Homo sapiens: one gene and its partners. The protein of the gene in region 2 interacts with the protein of the main gene of each other region in a pairwise test. Each region holds a gene or a part of one and is shown on either strand. Other genes may lie near its edges.

What was found.
Region 1: the proteins of RIMS1 (region 2) and MARK3 interact in binary tests that used the Homo sapiens proteins (3 or more experiments, as listed by UniProt).
Region 3: the proteins of RIMS1 (region 2) and SRPK2 interact in binary tests that used the Homo sapiens proteins (3 or more experiments, as listed by UniProt).

The regions. Positions count from the first base shown.
Region 1 is NC_000014.9:103,388,409-103,395,518, forward strand, and holds part of MARK3 (MAP/microtubule affinity-regulating kinase 3), read left to right. Parts: intron 1-7,110. UniProt on the Homo sapiens protein: Serine/threonine-protein kinase. Involved in the specific phosphorylation of microtubule-associated proteins for MAP2 and MAP4. Phosphorylates the microtubule-associated protein MAPT/TAU. Phosphorylates CDC25C on 'Ser-216'.
Region 2 is NC_000006.12:71,882,256-71,889,591, reverse strand, and holds the start of RIMS1 (regulating synaptic membrane exocytosis protein 1), read right to left. Parts: upstream 3,043-7,336; 5' UTR 2,569-3,042; coding exon 2,405-2,568; intron 1-2,404. UniProt on the Homo sapiens protein: Rab effector involved in exocytosis. May act as scaffold protein that regulates neurotransmitter release at the active zone.
Region 3 is NC_000007.14:105,140,820-105,147,929, forward strand, and holds part of SRPK2 (SRSF protein kinase 2), read right to left. Parts: intron 5,840-7,110; coding exon 5,674-5,839; intron 4,490-5,673; coding exon 4,464-4,489; intron 2,512-4,463; coding exon 2,265-2,511; intron 1,672-2,264; coding exon 1,189-1,671; intron 1-1,188. UniProt on the Homo sapiens protein: Serine/arginine-rich protein-specific kinase which specifically phosphorylates its substrates at serine residues located in regions rich in arginine/serine dipeptides, known as RS domains and is involved in the phosphorylation of SR splicing factors and the regulation of splicing.

The DNA of each region.
Region 1 (7,110 bases), on a different chromosome or scaffold from region 2:
TCCATATTAATTACCTACATTACTGCACTGCTAAGTATTAGACTTCCTGCCAATTGAGTGGTGAATGTACAAGAATGAATGGGAGCTCTCATTCTGTTGAGAACCTTTTTTCTTAAAGTTAGGTTTGTTGAGATGTAATGTTCATCTGTTTTAAGTATACAGTTTGGTGAATTTTGACAAGCGTATAGTTATGTAACCGCTATCACAATCAAGATGTAGAACACTTCCATTGCCAGAAAGGTCCCTTATGGCCCTGTATAGTCAGTGCCCTCTCCCTTTCTTAGCCCCTGGGTAACCACTGATCTGCTTTCTGTCCCTGTAGTTTTGCCTTTTCTAGGATGCTATGTAAATGGAGTCACAGTGTAAATAATCTTTTGTGTCTTCTTTCACTTAGAGTAGTGCTTTTGAGATTTATTTGAATGTGTATCAGTATCAGTAGTTCATTCCTTTTTATTGCTGAGTAAGTATTTCCTTGTTTGGATGTGCCACAATTTTTTTTAATCCACTCACCAGTGATGGACATTTTTGGCTATTGTGACTAGAACAGTTTTCTTTTAGTATTCTGTAAAAATACTTTTTATTGTGCTTACCCCAGGAATCTTATTTAAATTTTAAGTAATTGTATATAACTGTGATAAGAATGTCGCTTATTAGATCAAGACTAAGAAAAGGCAGGCCGGGTGTGGTGGCTCATACCTGTAATCCCAGCACTTTGAGAGGCTGAGGCTGGCGGATCACGAGGTCAGGAGATCGAGACCATCCTGGCTAACATGGTGAAACCCTGTCTCTACTAAAAATACGAAAAATTAGCCGGGCGTGGTGGCAGGCACCTGTAGTCCTAGCTACTCGGGAGGCTGAGGCAGGAGAATGGCATGAACCTGGGAGGCAGAGCTTGCAGTGAGCCGAGATTGGGCCACCACATTCCAGCCTGGGCGACAGAGCCAGACTCCATCTCAAAAAAAAAAAAAAATTAGCCAGGTGCGGTGGTGCATGCCTGTAATTCCAGCTACTCAGGAGGCTGACGTGGGAGAATCACTTGAACACAAGAGGTGAAGGTTGCAGTGAGCCGATATCATGCCACTGCACTGCAGCCTGAGTGACAGAGTAAGACTCTGTCTCCAAAAAAAAAAAAAAAAAAAAGCAGACAACTTGCAACATTATCTTCATCCTTGTACACTAATTTGTTTTTGTTTGTTTGATTTCCAAATATTAATGTCCACCCTTAGTGAATGGGTATATAAAAGTTTACTGTTGGCCAGGTGCAGTGGCTCACGCCTGTAATCCCAGCACTTTGGGAGGCCGGGGCAGGTGGATCACCTGAGGTCAGGAGTTCGAGACCAGCCTGACCAAGATGGCAAAACCCTGTCTCTACTAAAAATACAAAAATTAGCCGGGTGCGGTGGCGGGCACCTGTAATCCCAGCTACTTGGGAGGCTGAGGCTGGAGAATCGCTTGAACCCTGGAGACGGAGAGTGCAGTGAGCTGAGATCAAGCCATTGCCCTCCAGCCTGGGCGACAGAGGGATACTCCGTCTCAAAAAAAAAAAAAAAAAAAAAAAGGCCGGGCGCGGTGGCTCACACCTGTAATCCCAGCACTCTGGGAGGCCGAGGCGGGCAGATCACGAGGTCAGGAGATCGAGACCATCCTGGCTAACACGGTGAAACCCTGTGTCTACCAAAAATATAAAAAATTAGCCGGGCGTGGTGGCAGGTGCCTGTAGTCCCAGCTACTCGGGAGGCTGAGGCAGGAGAATGGCGTGATCCCGGGAGGCGGAGCTTGCAGTGAGCCAAGATGGCGCCACTGCACTCCAGCCTGGGCGACAGAGTGAGACTCCATCTCAAAAAAAAAGTTCACTGTTGCTGCATCGTGTTATAGCTCAAAAGAACTACTCAATCTGATCCAGTGAGGTTGCTGAGACTCAGAGAGGTGACAAAGGCTGCTAGTAATGACAGAAGACCACTAACTATTTAGTAGCAAAGCCTCTACTGGGCCCCAGATCTCTAGCTTAGGCTCCACAAGGAGATGTAGTTGTACCTGTACATAGAGTATTTCTAAAACTTTTTTTTAAGCTTGTAGATCAGGGGTGTCCAATCTTTTGGCTTCCCCGGGCCACATTGGAAGAATTGTCTTGGGCCACAGATAAAATACACTAACACTAACAATAGCTGATAAGCTTTAAAAAAACTGCAAAAAAAATCTCACAGTGTTTTAACAAAGTTTATGAATTTGTGTTGGGTCACTTTCAAAGCTGTGGTGGGCTGCATGCAGCCCTAGGGCTGTGGGTTGGACAAGCTTGCTGTAGATTTTATTTTGATTTTGAGACAGTATCTCGCTCTGTCACCCAGGCTGGAGTGCAGTGGAGCAATCACAGCTTGCTGTAACCTTGACCTCTTGGGCTCAAGCAATCCTTCCGACTCAGCCTCCTGAGTAGCTGGGACTACAGGCGTGCCCCACCACATGCATGGCTAATTTTTAATTTTTTCGTAGAGATGAGATCTCCCTGTATTGCCCAAGGTGGTCTCTAACTCCTGGGCTCAAGCAGGCCTCCTGTCCCAGCCTCCCAAAGCACTGGAATTACAGGTGTGAGCCACCACACTCAGTCAAAACTATTTTTTAAAATATTTTATTATAGGAAAATTTAAAAAAATAGAATGTTATTTATCAATGCTTCTCAGCCACAGGGTGATTTTGCCCTCTAGTGGACATTTGACAATGTCTAAAGACATCTTTGGTTATCACAGCTGGAGAAAGGTTTGGCTGACCAGGAATGCTACTAAACATTTTACAGTACGTAGGACAGCCTTCCACAGCAAAGAATTACCCGGCCTAAAATGTCAGTAGTGCCAGCGTTGAGAAACCCTGGTATGTACTTAGCCCCCCATGTACTCAACAGCGCAGCTCAGTGGCCAATCTTATTTCATTTATAAATGAAGAAGCAAATGCAGTATCATTTCCTCTCTAAAGCTTTTAGAAGAGATAAAGCCTGTTTTAAGAAAAAAGCAATACTTTTATCATATTTTCTTAATATCAAATATGCAGTATTTAAATTTTCTCACATTTCTAATTTTTAAACTGTTCAAATTAGAATCCAGCTTGAATTCATACATTATAGTTGGCTGATATGTCAAATATGCTTTTTTTTTTTTTTTAATTGAGATGGAGTCTTGCTCTGTCGCCCAGGTTGGAGTGCAGTGGTGCAATCTCGGCTCACTGCCAACCTCTGCCGCCCGGGTTCAAGCGATTGTCGTGCGCAGCCTCCCGAGTAGCTGGGATTACAGGCTCCCGCCACCATGCCTGGCTATTTTTTTTTTTTTTTTTTTTTTTTTTTTAGTAGAGATGGGGTTTCGCCATGTTGGCCAGGCTGTTCTCAAACTCCTGACCTCAGGTGATCCGCCCGCCTTGGCCTCCCAAAGTGCTGGGATTACAGGCGTGAGCCACTGTACCTGGTCAAAATATGCTTTTTAAAGGCAACCAAACAGTTTGCATTTCAGTTTATGTTCTATAGTTATATGGAGCCACGGATACATCCTTTTTCTATACTGGCAAAATGAGAAACATATTTTTCACCTGAATTTCAAAGGATATGACACTTCGTAAGCCTGGTAATGTTATTGGCCAAAGTACCAGAGGCCCAGGGCTTTCCCAGTTATTTAACAGTTACTGATATGTGTGCATCATGTACTTATTATTAGTTAATGCAAATAGTCCCCCAAATTTCTGACCTCTGTGAAACTGATGATGCTGTTGTCTAGTCAGTCATCGGTTATGTGAGACTGAATTAACCTATTCAGCAAGTGTGAATGCCTACCGTGTGTATGATACTGTGCTAGGTGCTGTAGAGGCCATATACCTGGGACACATAGCTTTCCTGCTCTTTAGGATTTCCTGCTCCTTGCAGGACAAAGCAGCCTGAGCTTTATGAAACTAGTCTGTAACTCTCAAACTTAAGCAAACATTAGAATCACCTGAAGGGCTTTAGAACCGTGATCACTGGGCCCTACCCCTAGACCTTGATTTTACCCGTAGAATTGGAATTTCTAACAAGTTGCCAGGTGATGTTGATGCTCCAGGTCCGGGGACCACTCTTAAGAATCACTATAGCAGGAATTTCTGATGTTTATTTATTAAGAAAAAAAAATCACTGCCTTAGTGTGCAGTGAAGGCTTGCTAACTAAACTATACTCCTTTTAGATTGTACTGTGACTATCAAAGGAAGATTTCCAGACCATTTAATTGAGTTTTCAGGTTCCATGAGTTTAAAAAAAACTGTTTATTAAAAATTGTGGTTCTGGAAAATAACAATAGTTGCCATTTGGTGATCACTTAACTGTATACCAGCCAGCAATACTTTGTAGAGTATCTCATTTAAAATATGTAATATGGTTTTATTTAATTAGCTTTTTTTTTTTTTAAATTTCCTGAGGCGGAGTCTCACACTGTTACCTGGGCTGGAGTGCAGTGGCACGATCTCGCTCGCTGCAACCTCCGCCTCCCGGGTTCAAGCGATTCTCCTGCCTCAGCCTCCCAGGTAGCTAGGATTACAGGCAGCCGCCACCACACCCAGCTAATTTTTAAATTTTATTTTATTTTTTGAGACAGAGTTTCACTCTTGTTGCCCGGGCTGGAGTGCAGTGGCATGATCTTGGCTCACTGCAACCTCCGCCTCCTGGCTTCAAGCAATTCTGCCTCAGCCTCCCGAGTAGCTGGGATTACAGGTGCCTGTTACCATGCCCAGCTGATTTTTTTGTATTTTCGGTAGAGACTGGGTTTCACCATGTTGGCAGGCTGATCTGGAACTCCTGACCTCATGATCCTCCCACTTCCCTCCTCGGCCTCCCAAAGTGCTGGAATTACAGGCGTGAGCCACTGTGCCCCGGCTTAATCAGCTTGTCAACTTCTAAGCACAACCTGTTGAATCAAGCTGTTTGGGCCTTATCAGAAAAAAGTTGGCCTATAGTTTCAGCTACTCAGGAGGCTAAGGCCAGAGGATCACTTGAGGCCAGGAGTTCCAGTCGACCTGGACAACATGGTGAAACTATGTATCTTAAGAAAGAAAAAAAAAAGTTGATCTCTGAAGAATTCATGAAAATATTTAGTCAGTTTTCAGGGAAAGATCTTATAGACTTCAATTTGAGCATCCTTATCTTATGTATGTAAATGAGGTAAAGGTTGAAATTTGCAGTAAATAGAATTTTGGTCATTTAAGTTATGTAGCTCATGATATATACATTGTATAACTATTTAGACTTACATGGTGCATGATTTACATTGTAATTACATAGAGGCTTATACAGTCTAATAAAAATTAATATTAACTATTTGATTGCAAAGAGGATTGTTCTGCATTTTATTACTTTTTTTTTTTTTTTGAGACAGAGTTTCACTCTTGTTGCCAGGCTGGAGTGCAATCTCGTGACCTTGGCTCACTGCAACCTCCGCCTGCCAGCCTAAGTAGCTGGGGTTACAGGCACACACCACCATGCCCAGCTAATTTTTTGTATTTTTAGTAGGGATGGGGTTTCACCATGTTAGCCAGGCTGGTCTCAAACTCCTCACCTTGGGTTATCCGCCTGCCTTGGCCTCCCAAAGTGCTGGGATTACAGGCTTGAGCCACTGCGCTCGGCCTGCATTTTATTATTCTAAGATATAGCCAAATTTTATGCCTGGAATTTTTTCCTGGGCTGGAACAAATTCCTAGTAAGAGTCAGGGAATATTCCGTGACTTGTGGCTTTGGTTAAAAAAGAAAAAGGAGTCAGGGAATGCAGTACCCTCTGATCACCACTGGGAGGACTAAAGCAGAAAATTCATTTGTCTCATATCCATTTTCAAATTTCAAATTAAACATGAAGGAGAAAATAAATCTCTTACCTGGGAAGCTTTAATGTCCTGTCTCACACAAGAAGTTAAAGGTTGTGCTTGGAGTTGGTCTGCAAAAGTAATAAGGAATTTGTACTCACCCGTCTGCACCTGCTTGTACAGAACAATTGGAAGGGCAGAAGTTGGCTTTGAAAGAAAAGGCCTTTTTTTGGAGGTGGGAGGGGCATCCAATTTTGTCTTCAGCCGAGAGTTCGCTAGCACTACACTCTAGCCACTCAAGCTGCTCAACTATGGTTGGTCTTGTGTACTTCTGTGTGCACTAGATAAGACATTGTTTCTGTGGGTTATGTGGGACCTTGAAGTTCAGTGTTGAAGCTCAAACAAAGCAGGTGTTTTTTCTGTATTTCTTGTTGACAGGCATTTGCTTTTTGTTGGACCTAAATATTGTGGGGTTTGTGTATGGACATTTGACACAAAAATCTGTATTGGTAGAATTTAATATAAAATCAGAGAAGTTGAATTCACAGGTTTTGTTCATAGAATTTTACATAACTCTAGTCTTTTTTCTTTTTTTGTGATGGAGTCTTGCTCTGTTGCCCAGGCTGGAGTGCAGTGGCATGATCTTGGCTCACTGCAACCTCTGCCTCCTGGGTTCAAGTGATTGTCCTGCCTCAGCCTCCCGAGTAGCTGGGATTACAGGCACCCGCCACCACGCCTGGCTAATTTTTGTATTTTTAGTAGAAACGGGGTTTCACCATGGCCAGGCTGGTCTTGAACTCCTGACCTCAAGTGATCCACCTGCCTCGGCCTCCCAAAGTGCTAGGATTATAGGCATGAGCCACAGCGCCTGGCCACAATCTTACACTACTTTCCTGAAGGGATGTGTGATGGAAAGAGTCTGGGCTTGAAAGTGGAAGACAAAAATGAGAGTCTAAGACTGATCGAGATAAAGATTCTGAAGAGGTAGAATGGACCTCATAAGATGGAGCAAAAAAGAAGGAACAACATATAAAAGGAGAAATTAGAATTTAGAGTTATAGACTGGAATTTGAAACTAGTCTTGAGATTTAACTGTGGACAAATTCACTCGGCTGTGCCTCATGGTTTTTTTTTTTTTAAATCAAAAGAGAATAACATCATTCAAGTTGTGTCTTGGTTTTTTTGTTTGTTTACTTAGATTTTTATGACTTCACTTTCTCAATTTCCTCTGTGGCCAGATTCATCAGGCATTCAGTCACTTTCATCTCTGTCAGGCTGGCCTTGTGTTCTGTCTGTCTGTTCTGCTGCATAGT
Region 2 (7,336 bases):
GGATTCCAAAACACTCACCAATCTGTCACTGAACAAAAGGCCAAGACATTAGCAGAGGAGGCTGATGGATAAAGTTAATACAGAGGTCCAGGATTATAGAGAGCTGTTGTATAACAGCATCATATACAGTGATATTTTGTGAATCCATGCAACAAAGGAACAATATATGCAAGCCAGTAGAAAGCAGTCACAGGAAAAGCAGCGGAAAAGATGTGTTAGACATGAGCAGTTGGACAGTGCTCCTAATTTTTATTTGCCCATATAAGCCCATACAATCTTATAATTGCTGTCCTTTGGCAGTTAGCAGGTTTGGAATTCTGTCCTAAAACTCACCCACTCCCACTTAAAATCCCTCACTCTCCACCATGCTTGAGACAGCCAATGAAGAGGCATGATGGCCACTACTTGCACCGTGCCTTCCCCTTCCTATCCGGACTCTGGCAAGCAGCAGCCTATATTTTCCACTAGCTACTGGAGGCCTCCATCCACCTGCTGTCTGCAGCAAACAGCAAAAGGAACAGCAGCAAACCTGTAAATCCTGACAAGCCGAAAAGGTGTTCAGGACAGGTGGCAGGGGCTGTAACCAGTGAGTACAGACGGACTGACAACCAGACAGACAGACAGCAGCACTATCAGACACCATCCATTACTTCCAGTCTCAGAAGAGGGGAAGCCTGCAGCACCAGGGACGTCATTCTTCCACTAGGGACAGGCAGCAGATTAACGAGGGTTCTGCCTCCCTCAAGCCGGCAGGCTTAAAGTATTTGATTTTTGGATGAGAAGGAGCAGGGAATTCAGAAACCTGCTGCTCTTTATAGAACCAGGCCAGCTCTGGCCTTCGGAGTTAATGGCCCTTTTCTGAATCTACAATGAAAGAACAGGAATGACTGGATTTCTACTATTTTGCTGTGACCTAACAGCCACATCTCTCCCTCAGTATCCCCCTCCCCTATCTGAGTGTCAGTTGCCCTGGTTGGGGAACCATCGGTCTGTGAATGCAGCCTCCCTCCATTCCTCTCCTATGAGGCACTGCTGCACTGAGGGGAAGCAGAAGAAATCTTCTTCGGCAGCATCTTCTCTCGAGGAGGCACTTCTAGGGGGTGGGGGAGAGGCCATGCAGAATGTGCTCTGTGTCTGGGTTTCACCCCTGCTCCCTCCCCACCCCTCTTTTGCTATCAGGTAACTCCAGATGCAACAGGTTCCTTTTGGCTCTTCATGCCAATCCCCTGGCCCCAGATACACCTTCCAGCCTAAGCAGGGGACACCAAGGAGTCAGTCACAGTCAGGGCCCCTACATTCCCCTGCTTCAGAGTGAAAACTTTCCTGAATACATGAAGACTTCCCAAGAAAAGGCAGGGTTGAAGCCTCCTTCAGCTCTACTCTATGGGTGATGCTAAGCAAGGAAAGCCCCGTCTCTCTGCCAGTCCCTTGTAAGCAGTTTTGTCTGAGGCAAGCAGCAGCACAGTGTCACACACTCCTGCACCACCAGCAAGTAGTCCCATCTTCTCCCCATCACCAGGAAAATGGGGCATCAGACAGAAATCCCTTGAAGGGTTGATGCGCTCTAAAGAAGTGAGGAGGAGTGCAAATTCCCAATCCCTTATTGGACTGTTTCCTCCAGGAACTGAACAGGCCCCAGAGGTCTCTTGGAAACCACTAAAGAGGAACCTCTATGTTATTCAGGCCAGAGTCCCTGTCAGCTTCTCCCATGATTAAAAACTTTGTATTGCCAGTGGCATTACATATGGAGAAGAGAATCTGTCTTCACACAGGTATGCTGTGTAGAAGACTCTGAATAAAAGGTTAAAGAGAAGCTGGGGAGGCAGGTTACCAAAGATGGCAATTGCCCAAAAAAAGACCCAACCTTGATCTGTGAGATGAATGATTACTAAAATGAACACTAAAAATAAGCATTTTTATTATATAAATATAGGCAGCCTTCACTGGGGTAACCCCGACCAGCTAAACAACTCCAAGAAGAGAAGAGGAGCTGTCCTCAGCACCTCTTCATCCTGCCTCCCCTTGTTTCTACTCATCCCCTGCCCCCTAACCTGCTCCCAGCCCAGGGACCTTCCACTTGGGTGGGATCAGCACCTCTCAGCTTCTGCACTTCCCACCACGAGCGTGGCCCCCGTCCACCCATCCCTCCTCTGCACCCCAGTCTCAAGTCATCCTCCCCCGGCCTTTGGGTTCCTGGATCTGTGGCATATCCCCTCCCTCCTCCGGTCCCCTGACCTCTTCCCTGCTCAAGCCCCGCGCCCCTGGCCCAAGGCGGGCGCCTCCGTCCGCACCCAGCACCCTGGCAGCCCCTTCCCCACACTCAGCCGCGAGGACTAGGGGAGTGAGTGGTGAATGGACGGATGGAGGCACGGAGGCATGGATGGCGCGGCTGGGGCTGGCTTACTTGAGCATGGCTTCTTCTTTTTCCTCCTCTTCCTTCTGCCGGTCCATCACTGCCATGATAATGTTCCTCTCCTCTTCGGTCAGGTGGCTCAGGTCGGGCAGCTCTTGCATGGGGGGAGGCACCGTGGGTGGGCGAGGACCGCGGGGCCCCACGGCCGAGGACATTTTCGTGGCCTGCCCGCCCCCTCTGCTCGCTCTCTGGCTCTCACCTTTCGGATGCACGCCCAGCAGCTGCGCCCCTGCTTCCCCCTCACAGCGGAGCCCTAGCGGCGGCGGCAGGAGGAGGAGCAGCGGCGGCGGCGGCAGCAGCAGCAGCAGCAGAGCCGGGGAGAGCGAGAACCCAGTCTTTCATGGTTGTTTGCATCCACCCAGCCCCGGATGCTGCCTTTGTTTTGGTCGCCCTAGCGAAGCTCGGGGCCGCCCGGCCGCCTCCCGCAGCCCAGCCTCGGCCGGCGGGGGCGGGCAGGCGGAGGCGCGGCGGGAGAGGCGAGGGGGCGAGGGCTCGCGCCAGGCTCCGCCGATCCGGGCGTCTCCGGCGGGGCGCGGGGCGGGGGCGGGGCTGGGGCTGGGGCTGGGGCTGGGACTGGGGCGGCCGCTGCCGCCGTGGAGGCTGCTCCCAGGCTCTGCTGCCTCCAATTTGGGGCTGCGGGAGGGAGAGGGAGAGTTTGGGTGTCAGTTAGGCGGAGTCTCAGAGGCTTCCATCCAGGGTGATGCCGCTGCTCTCGCAGACATAGCTGCCAGCCACTCAGTCCCGGCGCCGCTCCGCCCACGGGCACCCACCCGCCCACTCCCCGGGTCCGAGCCACGCGTGCCCCGGCCGCTACCCCTACAGTCGCCAACGTGCACAGCACCTCGCTCTATCCCCAGGTACCCCTCACCCATGAGTCATCCTCCCTCTTCTGGTCCCTCGCCTATGTCATCCTCCCCAGCCCTATTTTGCATGGGTCGCATTAATCATCATCATCCTCGCTACCATCTTCATCATAGAGCATTAATATTATTTGAGCAACCACAATGTTCTGAACAGCAGAATGGAACACCCTGTGGATACATTTTCTTTTTCCTCCCTGCCACCGTGTCTTTCTTATTTACTAGTTAAGTGTTCACAGCCACAACAATGTGATTTTTTGGATGCTTTTGATACACACACACACACACACACACACACACACACACACACACACATCCTCCAACAGCCTGGATTTTCTGGGTATATTGTACTCATCAATGCAGTGTCTTTCTTGACCCGTCCTCGCTAGGACTGTTCTGCAGTGTATCAAGATGCCCCACAACACGGTAAATCTTTAATTTGTGTTTTTTGGCTCTAGGTAGCCCCATCACATCACATAACTGCTCTCTGGTGCTTACACATGAGTTATCTACTCTAATTCCTCTAATGATGTTCGCTATCATCATACTCACTCACATGTAGTTCAGAGTATCTCTGTAGGTACTTCCCAAGAAACACTGATCCCAGATAAGAAAAACACTCAACCATATCCTATTGTATTTAAGAAGCTTCTGCTAATGCCTAGCCCAATGATAGGCATTAAGGATGAGCTTCTCTTGCTGATAAAGGCAGAAATAAATAGGCAATCTTTTCAAAATAGGTAATGTTATCAGCTTTGAAACCTGGAGACTGAATTTTCTTGATATAATTATAAAAGAATCAATATAGAAAAGGGTTTAAATTGAACAACAATTTCCTAGTCAAGACTCCTTAGCAATGATGATGAGAGAATTGATATGTTTCTCTCCTAGGCTATTTTTTTAACTTAATTTAACTTAAAGTTCTGGAGTACATGTGCTGGATGTGGAGGGTTGTTACATAGGTAAACATGTGTCATGGTGGTTTGCTGCACCTATCAACCCATCACCTAGGTATTAAGCCCCATATACATTAGCTATTTGTCCTGATTCTCTCCCTGTGCCCCACCACAGGCCCCAGTGTGTGGTGTTCCTCTCCCTGTGTCCGGGTGTTCTCATTGTTGAACTCCCATTTATAAGTGGGAACATGGTGTTTGATTTTCTGTTCCTGTGTTAGTTTGCTGAGAATAATGGCTTCCAGCTCAAACCACGTCCCTGCAAAGGACATGATCTCATTCTTTTTTATGGCTGAATAGTGTTCCATGGTGTGTATATGTACTACATTTTCTTTATCCAGTCTATCATTGACAGGCATTTGGGTTGATTCCATGTCTTTGCTATTGTGAATAGTGCTGCAATGAACATCCATGTGCATGTATCTTTATAATGATTTATATTCCTTTGGGCATATACCCAGTGATGGGATTGCTGGGTTAAATGGTATTTCTGGTTCTAGGTCTTTGAGGACTCGCCACACTGTCTTCCACAATGACTGAACTAATTTACATTCCCACCAACAGTGTAAAAGTGTTCCTATTTCTCCACAGCCTCACCAGCATTTGTTGTATCTTGACTTTTAATGATAGCCATTCTGACTGGCATGAGATGGTATCTCATTGTGATTTTGATTTGCATTTCTTTAAGGATGTGATGTTGAACTTTTTTTCATATGTTTGTTGCCTGCATAAATGTCTTCTTTTGAGAAGTGTCTATTCATGTCCTTTGCCCACTTTTTAGTGGGGTTGTTTGTTATTTTTCTTGTAAATTTATTTAAGTTCCTTGTAGATTCTGGATATTAGACCTTTGTCAGGAGGATGGATTGCAAAAATTTTCTCTCATTCTGTAGGTTGTCTGTTCACCTTGATGATAGTTTATTTTGCTGTTTAGAATAGCTCCAGAAGGAAGTCAGCACTCATTTTTTTTCCTCCAAGCCTAACTTTGTTAATGGAGAAGAAAATGACTAGGATGATGATATTTATTAATCTTAAAATCTTCAAGTTTAAGGAACTTAAGACTTTAGTTGATTTCCCATAAAATGCAGGAGTTGCTTCTACATGGACACATCTATTTGAATACTTTCAGTAGTGGAAGGTTCACTTCCTCTGAATTCCATTGCTACATCTAACTCCCTCTTCTTACTGGAAACCTTTCAAATATTTGACACAGTTATCATGTCCTCTTCAATCTTCTCCAGAGTAAATCTTCACAGTTTATCCAACCAGTATAGCCTCATTTTAAAGACTGATCATTTGGTCATCTGCCTTTGAAGACACTTAAATTTTTTTCACTAGCCTTCCAGAATATGTATCAAGAATATGTGTAACCAAGAACAGTGCCTGACATTTAGTGAATGCCCAATAACGCAGTATAGTCATTATTTTTATTTGTGTAACTTAATATTGCTCTAACTTTTTGATGGCCATATCACTTATAAGAATGTCACTGAAATAAACATGTAGTCCACTAAAAGTTTCAGTTATTTTTCATAAGCTCTGCTGTACAGCCAGATTTCCCCTTTCCTATAATTAAGCAATCATTGACATTTTATGATTTTATGATCTTGGCCAAATCACTTAACCTCTCTGAACTCTGTTTCTTCATCTGCAAAATGGGGATAAAGATATTTATCTCACAATAGAAGAAAAGTATTAAATAAGAAGACGTGTGAAGCATCTAACTATGGGCTTAACACTTTGTAGTTCTCTTTTTCTTATTTCTTTCTCTTTCCAAGAGATGTATTAGGTCATCCCTCAATTATTAATATACAGAAGGAAGTAGAAATGTAGATGACATATTTGTTCTACCAGATGCTTTTCTCTCTGTCAGTCAGTCAGGAAATGCAGCGATACAATGGACAAATTCCCTGTTCTCAAGAGGTTTACAATCTAGTTGGTTCTAATAAAATTCTTCTAAAATACAAGTAAAGGAATTATAAAGCTTCAGTAGACATTAGAACTAGCTGAGGAAAGCTCTTGAAGTCAAGGACCTAATGAACAAGTAACAGCAGTGCTTTAATTTGCTCCAATTGTCATTACAAAATACCACAGACCGGGTAGCTTAAATAACAGAAATTATTATTCTCTCCCAGTTCTGGAGGCTAGAAATCCAAGATCTAGGTGTCAACAGGTTTGATTTCTCCCAAGGCCTCTCTCTTACTTAGGCTTGTTTTGGCCACCTTCTTGCTGTGTCCTCACATGGCCTTTCATCTGTGCACATGCATCCCTGGTGTCTCTCCCTCTACTTATAAGGGCACTAGTTTTATTGGATTAGGGACCCTCCTTTATTTAACCTTAATTATCTCTTTAATGTGGACCCTATCTCCAAATGCAGTCACATGCTAAGGTACTGGAGGATAGGACTCAGACATATGAATTTGAGAGGGATACAATTCAGTCCATAATATGTGGTTTCCATTCATTAAAATTACTGTAAGAAATGATGATTGATGTGTATTATCTGGATAACTTAATGAAGAGAAATCTATGTCTCAGTCATCTTTATAGTTATTTCCCTGGGCTCCATGTGTCTTTGTGAAATAAATGAGTGCATAAATGAATGAGTAAATGAGTAAATTAGTAGAGCCTTGATTCAGCCCATCAGTGTCTCCTCTTCTATCAGGAATCTCATCCATTACAGAGGGGTTCAGAACCAATTTCTAAAACCCAAGAGAAGTGTCTTCACAGATTTACCTCCAGAAAAAGAGAACTTATCTGCACTTAGATAAGTGAGCAAATACCCAAAGTAGGTGTGCCAAAGTGTGTAGCACAGATTAGTTTCTGAAAATGCTCAATCAGTGTGGAAAAATGTTCATAATACCTCTCTCTTACACCTTAATAAATAAAAACAATGCTAACAAGCAAGTATTCACTGCAGGAAAGAAATCTGTCTTACCTGGTTTGGTTTGGCATTTCCCAAATGGATTAGACCATAGAATTATGTTCTTCCCTGATGGAGGAAACACGCTTTAGACAAGCTTTGGGAAAAACCTTGAGTTACAGGCCTAGTATGCAAAGATATTAATCAAAGAAACAGGAAACTTTGGATGTGATTATCCTTGTTCAACCAA
Region 3 (7,110 bases), on a different chromosome or scaffold from region 2:
GCATGGTGGCACGCGCCTATAATCCCAGCTACTCAGGAGGCTGGGGCGGGAGAATCGCTTGAACCCGGGAGGCAGAGGTTGCAGTGAGCCGAGATCGCGCCACTGCACTACAGCCTGGGTGACAGAGCAAGACTCAATCTCATAAAAAAAAAAAGAAACTTCAAGTAAGAGAAAAATTGAACTGCAACAGCAACAATAAGTCTGGATAAGGTACCTCTCACTACTGCCCTTTCCCAGAAATTAACCTACATTCTATGTAAGCACCTTCAAACACTCCCTGGAAAGGGGAACAGGAGCTGACCACGTCCAGCCAAGTAAAGAAAGCAAATCCTTAGGAGGATTCATCATAGCCAGTGCGTAACAAAGCCAGCTTACTCGGCGTGCAATTCCAGACTGCTGGAACCAAAGGGGCTGCAGAATGTCGGGCTGTTTGCAGGGCTGGCTCATCAATTTTACTCGCTGTGTGTTAAACAGTCTTGTCAGTAGAGGGAGCAGAGGGAGGTTTCAGAGCTTTTCCCCCATAAGCCAGTATGGAAACCAGCTGTGTTACCCAGTTTTCACTTACTAGAGTCACTTGGCATTCACTCCCAAAATAAGGCTTTGAATAAGTCAAGCCTTCTTAGGTAGACAAGAACACAAGAGCCAATCTATAATCTGTCATCACATTTAAATCCATGCCAATTCCTTGAAAATTACAATCCTGGGCCAGTTACCAATAGTAGGGTCCTATAATCAGGAACAACTATCAAAAGACAATATGACACTTCTTTCTCAATAGAGTCAAAGAGGAGGCATAATTTTCTTGAATAGAAACAAAACAAAACTAAACTAAACTAAATATAATGACATTAGATGGAAGAAGATACGAATTTTAAACTAAACTACACATTCTAGAAAGGTGTAAGTTGCTAAAACTGGAAGGTTTTTGCAAATGATGCTGCTGACTAAATATATTAAAAATGAAAACTGGTCAGAAATAAGATTTGGTATGCAGAGAGCAAGAAATAGCCTAATGGCATAGAAAATTTATTTAAATCACATTACTTCTTCAGGAGTATAAAAGTAATAAAACTGATCAGTACACACACACAGGGCTTGGCCACTTCCAGCCAATTCCTTCACAGCATTTGTTAAAGGCACGTCCCTGGAGTCAGCGATGGCAGACAGTTGATGGGAAGAAACACTTACCTTTTGGCAAATCCCCAGTACTGGAGGCTGAAACCGTTCTGCTTCTGTCATGGGATGGACTGCTCTCCTCTTGCTCAGTAAGTGGTGATCCCTCAGAAAGCACAGAGCCGCAGGCCACAGGTTCTAAGGATCCAGAGAACAACGAGGTGGAAAACTCTGGGAACTGTGACTCGGGAATTTTATGTCGTCCATTTGGCAATTCACCATTGAATTGTTCATAGGAGCTGCTATATGTGTAATCACTTTCTGCATTTGGCTCATCAAGATTATATTCCTCAGGATTTGGGCAGTCTTCTTCATCATCATCTTCATCGTCCAGTTGCTGCTCCAGTGAGAATGGGCCATTCTCAATATGGCCATTGGTTTTAGGTGATTCTATCCACGTAGGGTCTATGTTCGCAAGTTCCTGATCTACATCATCTTCATCTTTTTCAATGTTTTCTTTCTCAGCATCTTCTTTCTCTTCCTGGTCCTCAGCTTCACCTTAAGAATTTGATGGGTCAAGAATTAGAACTTGTTACTCTCCTTAATACAGCCTCATTAAGTACTTATCTCCATCAATAAAATACATTTTGAATATGCTTATGTACCACCTGGTAAACACCTCTTGGCTTTTGGGGTAAAACCTTCAGGTTTTCTAAATCTCATTTTTCATTCATTTAGTAATTGGCCTGCTCTTATAAGAAAAAGTTAGCTTTAAGGGAAAATAACTCTTTCTAAATAAAGTTGCACTTCCATTTCTACCCTCTATAATCTTCAGAAACAGACTTGTGGTGCATTACAGTTAGGTAAAAAGTTAATGACAAAATAAAGCACCATCATTAGCATGATAGAAACATGGAATTTCTCAATTATTTTACATTTTTAAAAACTATTTTGAAATGTTAACATATTTCTGGCATACAGTTCACAAATGAAGTACGAGGCTATTTCCCATATTTCCCAATAGGGAGTTGGAGAGAATCATCCTTGTCATCTGCAGCAGCAGCACAAATCAGCCCCCATGTTGACCTGGCAGAACCCTACTAATGGAGCTCTGAGAACCCCATGCAGCCCAGGTTCCAGGCCCCACTGACCATTGTCCTTTGCAGTCTCTGCCTCAGCCGCCTCCTCTAATCCTGTTGTTTTTAGTTTCACCTCTGGGCAGTATTCGCCATCCTGGTCATTGGAAGGTGCAGCTGAGGTGATGTTTTCTTCTATTATTTTCCTTTCAGCTTCTCGCTCCAATTCTTCTATCTCCTGCAGGCGCTTCTCCAATAACTCAGCCTGCCTCTTCTGTTTCTTTTTCAGTTTTTTCTTTTTGTTTTTAGATATTTTTCCTATCTATGTTAAGGAAAGACCACAGGTCAGTATTCTTCTTTTTAAAGCACCACGATAGTATAACGACTAGCAGCATGGCAAATAGCAATAAACTCTGCTTTCTCATGCCATATTCTATTAAAATCCCAAACCCAGACAGATCCACTTTGTGGTAAGGCTTACGATAAAATCAAAGGGAAAGCAGTGCTGACTGATATCACGTACTAGGTCTACTACCAGGTCCTGCCCTCAGAGGGATATAGCTTAAATCCAGTAAGTCTTCACCATTCAAACTCTAAGAGAACTGAAGTTCGAAATTCTCTTGGCCTTAAAGGAGAAGCTCCTCTTGCAAGTTTTATTTGCTGCTGTCTATATACAAAGTAACAACATCCCAGCTCCTCAATGCCAAAAATGAAACAGGTGCCCGAGCAGGTGTATGTCACTGTGTGTTTGGGTCTCACATATGAAGCTCTTAGCAGCCAAGACAACATGAACTGTAAGAGATAAGCCTATGCTGCAAAGGGAAAAAAGAAAAAGCTACAGCTTTTGTCTGCCTCCCGTCATGGTTACCTGACTTGCAAAGCACTGGCAATGACAGCCTCCAACCTTTCAATCAATCAGTAAATTCAAGCAGCTCAAGCCAGGGAAGAACTATGGGAAACAACTTGAGCTTCTCAGCAGGCCAGGAAGCTTAATTATTAAAGCTCCCTCTTGTTCCAGAACTTACATTCCAAATCAAGAGCTGTCTCAGTAAAAATAGTGTTTTGTTGTTGTTGTTGTTGTTTTCTTTGAGACAGAGTCTCTGTTGCCCAGGCTGGAGTGCAGTGGCGTGATCTCAGCTGACTGCAACCTCCACTTCTTGAGTTCAAGTGATTCTCATGCCTCAGCCTCCCATGTAGCTAGGACTACAGGTGCACACCATCACACCCGGCTAATTTTTTTTTTTTTTTTTGAGATGGAGTCTCACTCTGTCGCCCAGGCTGGAGTGCAGTGGCGTGATCTCAGCTCACTGCAACCGTTACCTCCTGGGCTCAAGTGATTCTACTGCCTTAGCCTCCTGAGTAGCCGGGATTACAGACGTCCACCAGCACACTCAGCTAGTTTTTGCATTTTTGGTAGAGACAGGATTTCACCATGTTGGCCAGGCTGGTCTTGAATTCCTGACTTCAAGTGATCTAGTGGCCTCAGCCTCCCAAAGTGCAGGGATTACAGGCGTGAGTCACCACACCCAGTATCTAATAAGGACATAGTGTTTTGACAGGACCACAAAATAGATCAGTCTCTTTCTTATTTAACATCCGCATGGAAAAAATTAGAACAACAGCTTCAGAAAAACAGGTAACTTAGCAGCCAATCAGAAATAATGTAAAGTGGTTTTGAAATAAAAATACTTCAACTCCATCACCTCACATTTCACTAAACTTGGCCACCATAGTCCAGAAAATGCATAAAGAAGACAATTTTTGAAAGGCTCTAACTATCCCAACTCTGCACAGATCATTAAAACTTAACAAGACAGGCTGGGCGTGGTGGTTCAAACCTGTAATCCCAGAAATTTGGGAGGCCGAGGCAGGCAGATAACTTGAGGTTAAGAGTTCGAGACCAGTCTGGCCAACATGGTGAAACCCCTCTCTACTAAAAATACAAAAATTAGTTGGGTGCGGTGGCAGGTGCCTGTAATCCCAGCTACTCGGGAGGCTGAGGCACAAGAATCGTTTGAACCAGGGAGGGGGAGGTTGCAGTGAGCCGAGATCGCACCACTTGCACTCCAGCCTGAGCAACAGAGTGAAACTCAGTTTTCAAAAAAAAAAAAAAAAAAAATTAACAAGACATTAAGTCTTACCTATTTGAGGATACACAGCTTTTATAAATGTGTCTACCCTTTAAATACACAACTTTTTTATAATTTGAACAACTCAATAATAAACGGTCTCTTTTAACATGGTGCATATAAAGTAATATGCGTAAGTACTTACAGGTTTCTGCTGTGGAGCCGTACTCACTAAAATAAAATCAAACAAAATCTGTATTTAGCAGAAAACAGACACATGCCTTCATGTAGGTCATTCGAATTGCAAAGTGAAATAATTATTGTCTTTTAATGGCTATCCAACTTCAAAAACTATTAATCAGAGCTTCTTAATCACAAGGATCTAGAGTAAGTTTATGCCACTGAAACAAATGAGTGACTCCTGAAGTCACAGCAGAAGTTACTCATACTGAGCCATTTCTCTTATTTATCTAAAATGAAATACTAATACATCTCAAACACAGTCAAGCTCAAGCACCAACAGATCACTTAAGAAAATGGAAAAGAATACATATCACAGTCATTAAACCAAATTTGTTTAAAATATAATGAAATGAACAATGTAGATGTACATCGATATTTGGAATCTATTTTGCAAGCTTTCTATAATTTAAATCAAATACTGCAGTTGGTATGCAGCAAATAGTCTAGGAATCACATGATTAAACCCCTACACCAGGGTCAAAAGCTTAACAGGCTGGGTCCATGATCTAAACAACACCCTGATGGCAGTAAAGGAGATGTGAAGAGAGCCCCAGGCAGTCCCAGGAGCCTCAGCCCTTTAGTATCCATGCTTGCCTGACAACACACAAAGGCACAGATCATGGTGTCGAAGAGTGAGAAGCACAGTCCACACTTCACTGCACCACCTCCCCGACCCCGCCCCAGAAATAAAGATATCCCAATACTCAGGTCACTTGATCTTCTTCCCCCACCATCAGGCCTTTTCTAACTAACTCCAAATCTGTTGATACAACTCAGGTTGACATAGCTATGCTAAATGGACAACAAGAATTTATGTACACAAAATTGAAGCCAGAAAAATATTCTGATGACTAAAGGTCAGCTACAGGAAAGCTGTTACTATGTTCTCCTCTGCAGAGAAGCTGGCAACAGAAAAAACTGTTCAAATATAGATGAAGCAGCAACTACAAATTTAAATGGCCTTTTAAAGGGGGACAAAAGTAAATACTTCCAATATTAAAATATAATGTAGCTGGGGCATTTTCCATTTCAAGGGTGCAGTTATTTCCAGCAATTAAACTTTTCCAAAATCTTCCTTATGTGTAACGTTTGATTCAGATACCTTCAACAACTGCAACTTTGCAAGCTCCCAATGCCCCCACACTGAAATGAAGCTGGCTCAGCTCCCTCACCTGCAGACCCTGAAGGAGGAGGAGCACCTGCTTTCTGCCACTCAGTGGCCTCAGCTGCCATTCTTCTCACATATGCATCATCCACACACATCAAGATATTTTCCGGCTTTATGTCAGTATGAATGATCTTGCACTTACTGTGTAAGTAATCTAACCCTTGAAGGACCTGGATATAGTAAAATCAAGAGAGAAGATAAGCTATTAATATCTCATTATATAACTTTTATTTATTTGAAAAACATGTAATACAATGCCAGGGTACAAAGTTTGATAAACACAAAAGGATATTTAGTAAAAATCTCCCTCCCATGCCTACCCACATTGGAATCCAGCTCTCCTTTCCATAAGCAACCAGTGTGTATAATTTCAGAGATTATTTATGCTCGTGGAAGCAAATGCATCTACATACAGTTGAACCTTGAACAACACAGGTTTGAACTGCATGGGTTCCCTTATACACAGATTGTCTTCCACCTCTGCCACTCCTGAGACAGCAAGACCAACCCCTCAGCCTACTCAACGCGAAGATAATGAGGATGAAGACCTTTATGATCATCTACTTCATATGATCTATCCACTTAATGAATAGTAAGTATATTTTCTCTTCTTTATGATTGTCTTAACATTCTTTTCTCTAGCTTACTTTGTTGTAAAAATATGCTATATAACACACATACAAAATACATGTTAATTGGTCATGTGATCATTAAGGATTCTGATCAACAGTAGGCTAGTAATTCATGTATCATACAATTGACCCCTTTAGGTATACAATTCAATGGATTTTAGATGTGCGACTATCATTACTATTTATTTTTTAAATTTTTTATGTATTTATTTTTTGAGACAGAGTCTCGCTCTGTCACCCAGGCTGGAGTGCAGTGGCACAATCTTGGCTCACTGCAACCTCCGCCTCCCAGGTTCAAGCAATTCTCCTGCCTCAGCCTCCCAAGCAGCTGGGATTACAGGCGTATGCCACCACGCCTGGCTAATTTTTTTTGTATTTTTAGTAGAGACGGGGTTTTACCATATTGGCCAGTGGTCTCGAACTCCTGACCTTGTGATCCACCTGTCTCGACCTCCCAAAGTACTGGGATTACAGGCGTGAGCCACCACACACGGCAACTACCACCACTATTTAAATGACAACATTTTCATTGCTCCAAAAAGAAACAACATATTCATCAGCATTCACTTCCCATCTCTCTCCTACCCCTTCTAACCCTTAGCAACCACTAATCTACTTGCTGATTCTGGACATTTCCTATAAATGGAATCATATAAAGTATTTTTTTGTAACTGGCATAATGTTTTCAAGTTTGACTCTTGTGCAGCATGTATTAGTACTTCGCTTATTCTTATTGGCAAACAGTATTCCACTGTATGGAGATACAACATTGTGTTTATCCCTTCACCTCATGAACATTTGGGTTATTT